Regions from separate parts of the Homo sapiens genome. Here region 1 is linked to region 2. The links come from fine-mapping of genetic effects on gene expression. Tissue or cell type: whole blood. Region 2 holds a variant in brackets; the other region holds the start of a gene. All regions are shown on one strand. Distances are between the middles of the regions.

What was found. PIP is the estimated chance that this variant, and not a neighbour inherited with it, causes the effect.
Region 1: it holds the start of TNIK, and the variant in region 2 is fine-mapped to the expression of TNIK in whole blood (INTERVAL, PIP 0.96).

Annotation. Positions count from the first base shown.
Region 1 is chr3:171,458,101-171,462,342 of GRCh38, forward strand. It overlaps TNIK (TRAF2 and NCK interacting kinase), which reads right to left and starts at 2,305. Exons shown (of 33, transcript NM_015028.4): 1 at 1,907-2,305. The coding sequence starts at 1,963. LOC102724479 (a long non-coding RNA gene) reads left to right here and starts at 1,118. Exons shown (of 3, transcript NR_189068.1): 1 at 1,118-1,291. It overlaps LOC124906303 (a long non-coding RNA gene), which reads right to left and starts at 71. Exons shown (of 2, transcript XR_007096168.1): 1 at 1-71. RefSeq lists a silencer at 1,935-1,994 and an enhancer at 3,006-3,506.
Region 2 is chr3:171,538,531-171,542,772 of GRCh38, forward strand. No RefSeq gene overlaps it. Among named protein-coding and RNA genes, the nearest start is that of TNIK, 80 kb to the left of the region's middle. The variant C/T (reference allele first, on the strand shown) is at 2,542.

The DNA.
Region 1 (4,242 bases), 80 kb before region 2:
CCGCAAGCCCTGCGCATTGTTCAGACCCCTTCCCCCTTTGCCACTTCCCGCCCCCCACCCCGACCTCCGACCGATTCGCAGCACCCCACCCCCAGTCGGGGCCATCCATCCACCTGATTAACTCGCCGGCAGCAACTCCCAGCGTAGAAAGTAGGGCAAATGAACACACACAGTCGGTAAAGCAGGAAGCCACAGACCTGGCCAATGCACCCACCCTGTTACCAACCCCACCCCGCTGCGCAGGGGGCAGCCGGTTCTTGATGTGGCATTTCCACTCCAGGGAAATAGACAGCTTCCTGTAATAATGCATGAATGAGCTTTGGCTGCCCAACTATCAGAACAGCCCATTTCAAACGGCATCTCTGTTTCTTCTCAACTCCTTACTTGCCTTGCTGAAACCTCATCTCTTAGCCCAACAGATTAAGACGAAGAGAGAAAGACTTATTCAAAGAGATGTGGAGGAAAAGGTTTAATTAAGGAGACCAAAGAGAAAGTACCACTTTGATCACAAAGGTAGCACTTTAATATATCAGTGCAGATAGCGGCAATGTCAGAAGTACTAGGAATCCAGGTAAATGGCCCCAAGATTCAGCATCAATCTAACAATGTATTCCTCAGGAGGGCGTGTGAACTTCCATGCTTCATCCATCCTGGTGTCTCCCTGTAGAGAGCCACCATGAATTCCTTCTCATCCACCCTCCATACATCAAGTATATGCACTCGCTTTCTTTTTAATTTTATTTTTGGTTCGGGAGAGGAAGAAGCAGTCCTTAAATTGGTGTCCAATCCTTCTCAGACACCCGCTGCTGCCACCATCCCCACCCCTCACCCCCTTCCAGGCAGGCAGCATCTAATTAAAATGGCAAGAAAGCTCTGCCCCCTTCCCCAAAGGAGTGTGTTGGGATCGGGAGTTGGGGGTGGGGAAGCGTCGAAGCAGCACTTGGATTCCTGGTATTCTGATCTCAAAACAACAGCAAAATGGATTCTATATCAGTGATGTCTTAGTCAATACAATGAAACGGCGTCTGAGGTAATTCACGTGAAGGTAAACGCAAACCAGTGGGGCTGGGGGGAGGGAGGTGCTCTACAAAGGACTGGCCACAGACACGGGGAAAACACACACAGACACACACACACACACACTCGCACACACTCCAGGGAGTTCCGGTCTGATTGAGGAAAAGCAGAAAACACATCCCTTTCACCTGCTTAAGTTCAGCCATAAAACTGAAACGTTACAGCCACAAAGTCAGAAAGAACAGGCAGGGCTGAGTTAAAGCCATAAATAAAGGTGAGTGGCAGACTGGCATTTAAGGGAGCGCTGAGAGGGCGCCCGGGCGCGGGAGGTAGAAAAGGGGGAGGGGGAGGCAGTTGCCATCTACAAGACCAGCATAGCAATAACTGCCCCCTTGGAGCGGCAGGTTCGGCTTCGCGGGGACAGCCAGCCTCACAATGTCATCTTGCAGGTAGCTGGAAAACGTGAGGGGCCAGTGCCTTTATTCACGCTGGCATTCTTTTTGCAGAAGGGACAGTCGGGTCTCGCGCCTTGGCACCAGACAACTGCCCGGGGCGTGTACACACACACACACACACACACACACACGCACACACGCCTTTCATTTTAATGCTCTTACACCGGTATAAGATGAAACTGGCATAAGCTCTACGAGCCCTCGGGAGAGCCTAAGCCACGGCCAGAGGAAGACACGTACCGCACAGCCCCTGCCGTAGGGGCTCAGCCAGGAGCACCTCAGCAACCCCGAATCAAAACGGGAATCCAGGTTCCCTCCCCGACGCATTCTCCCGCTGCTGTCCCCCTGCCCCAGCCCCAGCCCCCAGTCCACGCACCGAGCCCATTCACCCTAACCCAAACCACTGGAAAGAAACCAGAAAACGTCCTGCTCACCCTCAGAGCCGAGAGATCTATTTCATCCAGGCTTCGAGCCGGGGAGTCGCTCGCCATGTCTACTTCTTCGCTGGAGAAATGGACCAAAACCACCCCGAAGCTTTTCCCTTGGAAATTCCACCTTGGTCTATTTCACTCGCGTCCTCATGCGGGTGTCGCGCCAGAGGCCCCGGGCCCAGCCTCCCCCGCCCACCCCAGCCCCACAGCGCCGGATCCCGATCCTCCGCGCGTCGGTCCGCCGGGTCCGGGAGCCCAGCCTGCGCGGATCTCCAAGCCCCGAGCAGCGGTGCGTGTGGGCTGAGCGCCCCGATCGGCTAAGGGCGCTGGGGCTGCGTGGGTGTATTTAAATGGGACATGCTTCTTTGCTTGTGCGTGGATGGCGGCTGCATTGGCTGTTATAATGAGACACATCAACTCCTCCACTCAGCAGGGGGAGGGTGGGGGTGGAGAACCACGCAGAACTGTCTATCACCGCTTCCTGGGAGGAGTGAAGGGGGAGTGGGGAGGCGGAGGAGGCGTGGTCTTGGACTGGGGAGAGGCCGCGCTTCCTGACCCGGTCCCTCTGCACCAGCGTGGAGGGGGGAGGGGCGCGCACCCTTTCCGCCCAGGCTTTTGCGGGCTCCTCGGGCCGAACCCGAAGGGGCTGTTCCTGAACCTTGACTTGTTATCATAGGGACCCAAGCTCTATTTTTGTGTGGCCAATTCGTGCACTGCAGCAAAATGGCCCTTCAGTCGCGTCTTGGGGTTTCTCCTCGGTTCAAATGCTCTCGCGCTGAGAAAAAGCCGGAGGAAAAAAAAGCGACACCCTCCCTCCCCCATTAATTATTTGTGGGGCCGGAGTAACGCGGGCTGGTGCAACCGGTGCATATAAGGACTTGTGTGCAAGGAAGGGGATCCGCCTCCAGGCGCGGAAAGAGTAGGGAAGAAGCGCACACGCACAGTGCACCCAGCTGGGCGCTTCGGCAGTTTGCAGCTGCGGCGGGGTCGGGTCCACCCGCGGTCCCCGGAATGCCGGACGGCTGATCCCGGGTGCTGGTCACTCGCCGATTCGGGGCTGGGAAGGTTTGCCAGAAGCGGGAAAGATGGGAGATCTGAGCGCTCTCTTGGCATCGCCACACCCAGGACTTGCTCGTGCCGCAATTCCCCACGGAAACAACCGAGTTGAAACGAGAAGCTTGCTCTCTGGGTGCAGTAGCTAGAAGGCTTCAGGTAACTCCAAAGCCAACACTGGGTGAGGCAACACACGCCGCCTCAGGACTCAGCATTTCTTTCAGGCTGCGTTTTCGTGGCAGACCTACCCAGATTGATGGAGAAAGTTTGGCTGGCGGATAAGAAGTAACGCGGAAGATGTGTACGTGAGAGCGATTTCACTTCACTCACTTTCTCATTTAAAGGTTGGATGTTTTACAGTGGTATACATGATTCTCCTTCTGTAATCAAGAGTGGGAAGTCGCTTCCCCCAATCCCCGCGCAGCCCTTCTTCTCCCGCCTTAGCCATGCAAAATACCTAGAAAGAAAACACTAAAACTGAACTTTTTTCCAAATACAGCAGTAGCTTTGAAAGCATTCTTTGCTCCTCTGTTAACAGCAGAATGTAATTCTGACCACTGCACTGATGGTTTCTTAATCATGCAGTATGAAGATCAGCTTCAAAATAAGTCTTATGAATGAATGAATGAAAGCCAGTGCAGTTAGTTCATCATGACTGCAGACATTAGAGGACTTTGAAACAACCTTTGGTGTACATTGTACTGTTTTTGTTACTGATATTGTATGTATTCATATGCATTGTGGATCATGCACCATGAAACTTGAAAATTGTTCCAACATCTCAATGGCCACAACAGTTTGGTAGCTTTTGCCTGTAAACGTTGTATGTAAACATTTGAACGTGTTATACTAAATTACTAAACTCATTTTTTACTAAAATCATCTGGTTCGACATAGTAAGTAACGTGCAGTAAGCCACCACGTCGAAATGAAAAAAAAAAAACAGATTATTTCCCATCATTGTCTTTGTTTTTTTCTCTTCTGTGTTCCTGTTTTTTTACCGTTCATCTAGACAACAGGTTAATGTATTGTCTCAGGGTTGAAAGAAGATAATTTAAGATCAAGTATTAAGATCTATAAACAACTATTTTTTTAAAACTGCAAACATAAGGAAATATGAGTTAAATATTTTTTCCATGGAAAGCCTTCGTTTTATACTCATGATTATATTTGAAACATCACAAACAGATCAACTTTTTTGACATTAGTGAGCTGTTTGGGCCACGAGGGTGCCAAGTTGGCATTCAGATTTAGTTTAGTTTTAGATGAGAAAGTTATAGATGCAG
Region 2 (4,242 bases):
AAAGTAGGTTACAGCAGGGAAAGAATCCTAAAGCAGTTTCAGCTGAAATCCTGCCTTGGCCTGATCCCACAGGGAGCTCTAGGATGTGAGTGGCACCACAGAGTTCGTTTGAGTCAAGAGGGCTGAGCATTTATATCAGTTTGCATACTGCCTCCTGTGGACAAAGGGAATTCTTTTTTTTTTTTTTTTTTTTTTTAAGACAGAGTCTCGCTCTGTCGCCCAGGCTGGAGTGCAGTGGTGCAATCTTGGCTCACTGCAACCTCTGCCTTCCGGGTTCAAGCAATTCTCCTGCCTCAGCCTCCTGAGTAGCTGGGACTACAGGTGCCCGCCACCATGCCCGGTTAATTTTTTGTATTTTTAGTAGAGACGGGGTTTCACCGTGTTAGCCAGGATGGTCTTGATCTCCTGACCTCGTGATCCACCCGCCTTGGCCTCCCAAAGTGCTGGGATTACAGGCGTGAGCCACCGCGTCCAGCCGACAAAGGGAATTCTTACGAAGCCATTAGCCAACATTCTCAGCAGTTGGGGTAAGAGGCAACTGGGCAGGGCACCTCCAGGGCCTACTACAAGGCTTTGTAACATCTGGTATATTTCTCCCCTATGTTCACTGTATTACGTGTTGAGAGCATAGCATATTTACTTTTTCTAGTTATATTGTTAGCATTTCCTAATGTCATTTTTTTCTATATGTCATATTTACTGGCTATACTAATATCTTTAATTTATTTAGCTATTCTCCTGTTGATAGATGGATCATTTTAAAGTTTGCTATTGTAAATAATGCTAGAATAATTGTCATTAGTCTTGATGTATTATTTTCATAAATTGTTAGATTCAGTTTGATCAAATTTTGGTAATTTTGCATTTATATTCATGAGAGAGATTGGCCTGTAGTTTTCTTTTAATGTAATGGCTTTGCCTGGTTTTGGTATCAGGGTAAAGCTGGTTACAGAAAATTAGTTTGGGAGTTAAATTTAGTCAGGTTATTTCTTTCTCCTTTACTAAGCTTTGGCAATTTGTGTCTTTGAAGAAATTTCTCCATGTCTTCTAGGTTATGAAATTTGTTGTCAGAAATTTATTTACAATATTCCTTTATTACCTTTTAATGACCATAAGATCTAGAGTGATGACCCCTCTTTTATTCCTGATATTGTTATTTAATTTCTTCTCTCTTCTTGATCAGTCTGGCTAGGAGTTCATAATTGTATTTATCTTTTCAAAGAAAAAGATGGACACTTAGACTATGGACTTAAGACTTTTATTTTCTTCTAATATAAGTAATTAATGCTATAAATTTCTCTCTAAGCACTATTGCTGCATCCCACAGATTTTGATGTGTCGTATTTTTAATTTTATCCTATGAAAATATTTTCTAATTTCTTTTTGTTATTTCTTATTTGAGCTATGGGTTATTTAGAAGTGTGTTATTTATTTTCATGTATTTAAGGATTTTCCAGATGGCTTGCTATTTGATTTCTAGAATAATTCCACTGTGGTCAGAAAACATACTCTGTATTATTTGAATTCTTTTTTATTTATTTAGCCCATTGAGACTTCCACTTTTTTTTTTTTTTTTTTTTTTGGCCCAGAATATGAGCTATAATTGTGACGGGTTCTGCTGTTGTTGGGTATAAGCATTCTGTAAACATCAACTAGGTCATGTTTGTTGATAGTGTTGTTCAAGTCATTTATGTGCTTGCTGATTTTTGCCAACTTGTTCTATCAATTCCCAATAGAAGAGTATTAAAATATCCAAATATAATTGTGAGTTTGTCTATTTTTTAAATTTTATCAGTTTTTGCTTCATGTATTTTGGAACTTTGTTACTGGATGAATACATGTTAAGGATTATTGTGATGTCTTAATTAATTGACTTCTTTATAATTATGTAATGTTCCTTTTCATCTCCAGTAATAGTCCTTGTTCTAAAGCTGACTTTGCTTGATATTAATATAGTCACTATAGTTTTCTTTTTGTTAATGTTTACATAGTCATTTTTTATCATCCATTTCTTTCAATCTAGCTGTGTTGTTTTACTTAAAGTGGGTTCTTTACAGATAATATATAATTTGTCTTGTCTTTTAATCCACACTGATAATTTCCCTTTTAATTGGAGTGTTTAGACGATTTATGTTTGATGTAATAATTGATATGGTTTTAAAATGTCATGCTGCTGTTTGTTTTCTATTTGTCTTATCTGTTCTTTGTTTCTTTCTTCCTCTTTTACCCCCTTTTCTAACTTTATTTTTTTATGATCTCATTTTATCTCCACCATTGGTTTATTAGCTGTGCTTCTTTAGTTTTGTTGTTGTTATTGCTTATTTTTAGTGACTGCTCTAGAATTTTTTTTTAGACAGAGTATTGTTCTTGTTGCCCAGGCTGGAGTGCAGTCGTGTGATCTCAGCTCACTGCAACCTCCGCCTCCCAGGTTCAAGCAATTCTCCTGCCTTAGTCTCCTGAGTAGCTGGGATTACAGGCACCTGCCACCACGCCCAGCTAATTTTTGTACTTTTAGTAGAGACGGGGTTTCGCCATGTTGGC[C/T]AGGCTCGTCTCAAACTCCTGACCTCAGATGATCCATCTGCCTTGGCCTCCCAGATTGCTGGGATTACAGGCATGAGCCACTGTGCTGGCTTCTAGAATTTATCTTTAGCTTATCATAGTCTACCTTCAACTCTGCATATGGTATGAGATTCTTTCATTTATCTCCTCTTTAGTCCTTGGTAGTATTATTGTCATTGGCTTTATCGCTGCATGTGCTAAAACTCCTACAATTAAAGAATGAGAAAAAAAGGTTTTTATGTATATCCTCATATTTTCCATTTCCTGTTTTTTACTCCTTTGTTAGATCCAAATTCTCCACTGACATCAGTTTCCTTCTGCCTGAAGAATTTCCTTTAGCATGTCTTGCAGTGGAGGTCTACTGACTTTTGTTTGTATGAAAAAGTCTTTATTTTGTCTTTGTTGTGAAAGATATTTTTGGTGGGAATATAATTCTACATTGACCGTTGTTTTTTCTTTCAGTCCTTTAAGATGTCACTTCATTGTCTCCTGGCTTGCATAGTTTCTTACAAGAAATACGCTCTAATGCTACCTTGTTTCTTGACACGTAAAGGGGTTTCTTTTCTCTGGCTGCTTTTTATTACTGTTTTTCACCAAGTTAACTATAATGTGCTTTTATGTATTTTTCTTTATGTTTATTCCATTTGAGTTTTGTTGAGATTCTAAGGTCTATACATTTACCACTTTTCATAAATTTTGGAAATTTCAACTATTATTTATTAGTTCTTCAAATATTTGTTTTCCTTCTCTCCTCTACTCTTAGAACTGCATTTACTATATTTTAGACAACTTGATATTTCCCCAAATGTCATGGAGCCCTCACTCCCTTCCTTCCTACCTTCCTCCCTTCCTCCTTCCCTTCCTTCCTTCCTTCCTTCCTTCCCTCTTTCTCTCTTTCTTTTTCTTTCTTTCTTCAGAGTCTCATTCTGTTGCCCAGGCTGGACTGGTGTGGTCATAGGTCACTGCAGCCTGTAACTTTCGGACTCAAGCAATCCTCCCACTTTAGCCTCCCCAGTAGCTGGGATTATAGGTGCATGCCACCATGCCCAGCTAATTTTTTCATTTTTTGTAGATATAGAGTCTTACTATGTTCCCAGGCTGGTCTCAAGCTACTGGACTGAAGCAATCCTCCTGCCTTGGCCTCCCAAAGCACTGACATTACAGGCATGAGTTACAGAGCCCAGCCTATTAATTTTTTAAAAATATTTTTTTCTCCCTGTGCTTCATTTTGGGTAATTTTTGTTGTTGGGTCTTTATGTTCACTAATTTTTTATTTTATAGTATTAGTCTGCTGTTACTTTTATTCAGTGTATTTTTTATTTAGAATATATTTTCATATCTAGATGTTCCACTTGAGTCTGTTAAAAAATATCTTCCATTTCTCTTGTTGTTATATTCATGTTTTGCTTTACATTTTCAAGCACATGGCACATACCTCTAATAACTGGTTCAGGTCTTTTCTAATTCCATAATCTCTGTCATCTCTAATTTTGTTCATATTGATTGATTATTAGCCTGACTATGGGTCATATTTTTCTCTTCTTCTTGCCTGGTAACTTTTTACTAGGTGACAGCCATTGTAGATATAATTTTGTTTGTTTTTTGTTGTTGTTGTTTATGGGTGCCAGATTTTGTTGAATTCTTTTAATAAGTGTGGACCTTGTTCTGATAGGCAGTTAAGTT